Regions from separate parts of the Homo sapiens genome. Here region 2 is linked to region 1. Evidence: fine-mapped QTL for protein levels in blood plasma. Region 1 holds a variant in brackets. A gene starts in the other region. All regions are shown on their forward strands.

What was found. PIP is the posterior inclusion probability: the model's chance that the variant is causal. Protein levels are from antibody-based Olink assays in UK Biobank. Linkage for the fine-mapping came from a reference panel and not from the study's own genotypes, which makes the PIPs less certain.
Region 2: it holds the start of CCL17, and the variant in region 1 is fine-mapped to the plasma level of the CCL17 protein (UK Biobank, PIP above 0.99).

What each region holds. Positions count from the first base shown.
Region 1 is chr3:17,087,506-17,090,429 of GRCh38, forward strand. It overlaps PLCL2 (phospholipase C like 2), which reads left to right. Exons shown (of 6, transcript NM_001144382.2): 6 at 2,228-2,924. The coding sequence ends at 2,407. Among named protein-coding and RNA genes, the nearest start is that of PLCL2-AS1, 34 kb to the left of the region's middle. The variant A/G (reference allele first, on the strand shown) is at 1,257.
Region 2 is chr16:57,402,848-57,405,771 of GRCh38, forward strand. CCL17 (C-C motif chemokine ligand 17) reads left to right here and starts at 1,920. Exons shown (of 4, transcript NM_002987.3): 1 at 1,920-1,989.

The DNA.
Region 1 (2,924 bases):
GGAAGGATGACTAGCAAAGCACAGAGGAATTTTAGGGTGGTGGAACTATTCTGCATGATCGTGTAAGGGTAGATAGATGTTGTTATACATTTTTCAAAACCCATGGAATACACAAAACCAAGGGTGAGCCCTAATTTAGGCAATAGACTTGAGGGGATGTGGCAACATAGGTTCATTGATTGTAACAAGTATACCACTGTGGTGCGGGATGTGGCTACTAGAGAAGGTTTGCGTAGGGAGGGAGCGTAAGGGAACTCTCTGTGGTTTCTGCTCTGTTTTGCTGTGAACCTAAAACTGTCCTAAAAATTAAAGTTTATTAATTTTAAAAAATAATATTTGGAGTTTTAAAACACAAAGACTAGTTAGTCTATTAAAACTGTGAATGTGTGTAGCAATTCTGCTTGTGAAGGGAAATACACTATTTAACATGAAATTATACTCCTGACACAATATGCTATATATACAAAGACCTCATAACTAGTAAATTTTCAACATGTGAGTTCAGTGACTAGTAAGAATGAATAAAAATGAAGCTCCTTTAGTTAATCTACGCAAGGGAACATCTATTTATAGTTACTAATTAAAGGACTCTGTAAAGCAGGAAAACCATGCATGGTAAGTGGTAGGCAGCAAACTGTTCTGTGGATTTGGGCCTCATGACGGTTTAAAATTGCCTTGCAATTTGATCTCACCAGTGGCTGACATTTGACTATAGTCCATTTGCCAGCCAAGGTAAGTCCCTACCCATTGCTCTCTGCAGCTGGCCCCAAGCTCCTGCTGGACAGGAATGCCTTAAAGGGGACCCACACTGGGAGGCAGTTCAGAAAGAGGGAAAGGCGGAGGAGGTGTAAGTAGGACAAAGAAAAGTCAAACTACAGAGGAATCATAAAGAAAATAATAGAATAAATTGAGAACCCAAGGGGATGGGAAAAAATAGCAAGCAAGGAGAGTGAGAAAGAAGAAAAGGTAATAGTGTAAGTAGAAAAAACTGTTAGTGGAAGGCAGGTTAAATTTGGAAGGAAAAATAGAACAAAAAAGCAAAGTAGGAGTGTTGGAATTTACAGCAATAGAGCACCACATCATCTCTTCTGCTCGATAATTTTGGAATTGTTGGCTGATGCATTAGCCCAGTGGTTTTCAACTGGGGGTAGCTCACCCTCCCACTCAAGAGACAGTTAGCAATGTCTGCAAACATTAGGGTATGCTAGGGGTGCTGCTAAATATCTGAAAATACACAAGACAGCTCCCCACCTCCA[A/G]AGAATTCTCTGGTCCAAAATGTCAAGAGCAAAGAGGGTGACAAACTTCATTGGCCCATTGTCAGCACCGATTCCAGACTCCCAGTGACTGTGCTTCAATTCGCCCACTGTTTTCTGACCTATATCATGTTATACTGCATATAGATCAAGTTGATGGTCAGACCTCAGAAAAGAAATTAAAATTTGGCTGAGAAAGTATATCCAAAGTAGAAAATCCTTTGCTTCACTCTTTCTTTCAGCAAATGCTCAGTGAGGACCTGCTGCGTGCCCACGGCTGCCAGCACTTACCAAAGGCTGTGTGGGCTTCAGAGATGGAGAACAGATTAGTGGTTGCCAGGGTTTAGGGATGGTGGAGAGGAGGGGTGGGTGTGACTTCCTGGTGGTGCTGGTGCAGTGCTGTGCCTTGGTTGCCACGGTGGTTACGTGAACCCACACATGTGATGAAGTCACACAGAAGCATAGGCACACTTTGTACCCCCATCAGTGTCTTGGTTTTGATATTGTGCTATAGTTATGTGAGACATAACCATTGGGGGAAATTTGGGAAAGGGTATACAAGACCTCTCTGTACTATATTTGTATCCTTCTGTGAGTTTATACTTATTTCAAAATAAAAAGTTTTTTTTTTAATCAAACCTTAAAAGGGAAAAAACAAGATTGGCCAAACAACTAATGAAAGATGTAATTTTAACCAGGATAGACAGGAATAGTTCATGCACACAGAACCCCATGCAGATCTATAAATAGAAAGGGCCAGAAAGGCAGCATACTCTTGGAGTGTGGTGTTGAAACTGGGAAAACAAACTCACTTTTTATTAAAATTGACCTATTCAGATGCAGTGCCAATAAGAAATAATTATGCCTTCTTGTGGAATCAGAATACTTCTATTTCAGTGAAAGATAGATATTGTTGAAGTATAACACTAAGTTATGTCATATCTAATACTGTTTAATTGCATGTTTTGTTATAGGGACAAGCAGATCTTTTGAAATATGCTAAGAATGAGACATTGGAGAACCTGAAACAAATCCATTTTGCTGCTGTTTCATGTGGACTGAATAAACCAGGCACCGAAAATGCTGATGTCCAGAAGCCACGCCGGAGCTTGGAAGTCATACCCGAAAAAGCAAACGATGAAACTGGAGAATGAGGAAACTTACAATAAACCATTATGGAGTTTATAACTCTAGGACCAATTGTAGTCAGATGGGACATTTGCTTTGCACTCACTAATGAGAATAATATTCGGGATTTTAAAGCACAACTGGAATAGCTAATTACAGTCTATTAAAACTGTGAATGTATGTAGCAATCCTGCGTGTGAAGGCAAATAAACTCTTTAACAGGCAATTATATTGCTGGCCAAAATATGCTATATTTGTATACAAAGACATTCTAACTCAGTTCCAGTATGAAGAAAGATTATTCACTCTAGCTCCACTGAGAAACATTTTCCTAAGTGAAAACAATTTCTTAAGATGGAAATGGATTGGATTGTCAAATTATTATTTATTGGAGAAAAAAACCTGATCTACACATTTTTACTTATATGGGGTTGCCAGAGTCTCTGGGTTCTAGATGATTTTGGTGGCATGCTTGCTGAGCCATAATTACTAAAGAGAATGTAAGTGGACGGGTTCCCTGAATCCCCGGGGTCCTTGGAGAGC
Region 2 (2,924 bases), not on the chromosome of region 1:
GGCCTACCATGTGCCGAGATATATTCCATTAAAGAAAAGAAACAGAAACCTCTGTCCCATGCAACTTACATCCCAGTAGGATGGGGGTGGGGGTACAGGTGGGAGACAGATAGTAAACAGCAGACATAAGTAAGCGAATGGCCTAGCATGTCAGAGGATATAAGCATTTCAGCAAAAAAAAAAAAAAAAAAGAGCAGAGGAAGAGATGGGGATGGCATGCAATTTGACTTCACTGAAAGATGTAATCTAAACAAATACATATATATATTTATAATATATATAATATATATTATTATCTATAATATATATAATATATATTATTATCTATAATATATATAATATATATTATTATCTATAATATATATAATATATATTATTATCTATAATATATATAATATATATTATTATCTATAATATATATAATATATATTATTATCTATAATATATATAATATATATTATTATCTATAATATATATAATATATATTATTATCTATAATATATATAATATATATATTATAATATATATAACATATATTATATATAATATATATATTATAATATATATATTATATTATAATATATATTATAATATATATATTATATTATAATATATATTATATTATATATATTATATAATAATATATATATTATAATATATATATTATATTATATATATGTTATATATATTATAAATATATATTTTATATATATATAATATATATTTATAATATATATAATATATATTTATAATATATATAATATATATTTATAATATATATTATATATATTATAAATATATATAATATATATATATATATATTTTTTGAGATAGAGTCTTGCTCTGTTGCCCAGGCTGGAGTGTAGTGGTGTGATCTTGGCTCACTGCAACCTCTGCCTCCTGGGTTCAAGTGATTCTCCTGCCTCAGCCTCCCAAGTACCTGGGACTACAGGCACCTGCCACCACGCTCAGCTGATTTTTGTATTTTTAGTAGAGATGGGATTTCACCATGTTGGCCAGGCTGGTCTCGAACCCCTGACTTCAAGTGATCCACCTGCCTCGGCCTCCCAAAGTGCTGGGATTACAGGCGTGAGCCACCACGCCCGGCCTAAAAAAGTTTGAAAAAGGTGAAGGAGTGAGTCCTGCAGGTATCTGGGGACAACATTCCAGGCTGAAAGAACAGTCCGTGCAAACCTCCTCAGGAAGGAGCATGTCTGTCTGGTTGGTTTGAGGCATAGGGAGGAGGCCAGGGTGGCTGGGGCAGAGTGAACCAGGGAACCAGGAGATACAGGTGGGCAGAGAGCAGGGCACAGAACTCGCGGGGCCTCGTGGCTGCTGGAGGGTCTTGGACTTGTCCTCTGCGTGAGGTGGAGAGCCACGGGGACGTTCTGAACACGGGAGATTCATGGTCCCTCTGCTGCTGTGCTGAGAATACACTGTAGGGGGCAAGGATGGAGACAGGGAGAGCACCCAGAAGGCAGTTGTAGGAAGCCAGGGATTGATGCTGGTTTCTGGGTGTATTTGGAAAGCAGAGACATGAGCTCACCCAACAGATGGGAAGTTGGGGGCGAGAGGAAGAGGCGTCAGGGATAGCGCCCAGGTTTCTGGCCCTAGTAACCGGAAGGAAGGGGCTGGCAGAGAAGGAGGAGAGAGCAGGTGTAGGGGTGGGTGGGAATCAGAAATTCAGCTTCAGACTTGGGGGGTTGGAGCTGCCTATTTGGTATGGCGAGTAGGCAGCTGGACGTAGAAGGAGGCTGGAGTTTGCGAGAGAAACTTGGGAGTGGTTGGCATATAGATGATATTTAAAGTCAGAAACGTGTACTATTTGCCAGATATAAGCAGTAAGGCAGTTGATGCAAACCAAAGCCTTCTAATGTAATTATTGTTATTATTTTCATTTTGCAGCTGTAGAAACTGAGGCTCAGAGAGAAGTGACTTTGAGCTCACAGTGTCACCGCCTGCTGATGGGAGAGCTGAATTCAAAACCAGGTGACCTGACCTAGAGTCTTTGCTCCTAACCCCTCCACTGTGAGGTGACCCCCTCGCTGGATCTTTCAGGGCATGTGTTAGATGAGCGGTGGATGGACTTTGGATCAAGGGAAGATAATCCATACAAGAAGGGGACAGGAGTTTGGAAGCAGCAAACCAAGTCACAAAGTGAGGGGACGCACTGGCCCTCAAGAAAGCTCAATGTTGGGGAGCAGGGAGATGAGACTGAATAGGAAGGAGGGGCTAGATGGAAGGTACAGCTTCAAGATTGGCCTGAAAAGTTTTGACTGGATGGGGAAGGAAGCAGGGAGCCATTGACGGTTTTGGAGGAAGGGGGCATTACATGGTCAGGGCAGCCCTTGTGAAAGATCCACCACATGTGGGCATGCAGCTGATGAGGGAGGTGTCAGGAGAGACCAGAGAGGAAGAAATAGGCCCAGAAGTTTTTGAGACTCTCTGGGTGTGAAGGATGAGGGCTGAGCCAGTGGAGATGAGAAGGAAGCAAGGAAGCCAAGCTCCCACTGAAGACAGCGCTGGGCAGAGTCTCTGCCTGATGTAATGTGGGGGATGGAGGCGAGGAATGAGTCAAGGGCAAAGTTTCAGACTTGGGGGCAGATGGGGAGATGGGAAACAATGCTGGCTTGAACAGAAAAAAAGGAGGCTGGTGTGAGAGGGAACTCGGTTTTGCCCTTCTGGTACCTGGGGCTGAGTGAACCATAGCAGGACAGACTTCTGCTTCCCAGCAGCTCACAGGTTAGTGTGGGGGACAGAACTGCACAGAGCTGGCCAGGCTGCAAGGCAGAGAGAGCTGAGGGGTGCCACAGAAAGATGGGCCGGAAGGAGGAGTGTCCAGGTGGGTGTGTCTGATTAGTTACTGGTCAGGGCTGGAGACAGAGATTTAAGAAGTATTTATCAGGCCAGGTGCGGTGGCTCAC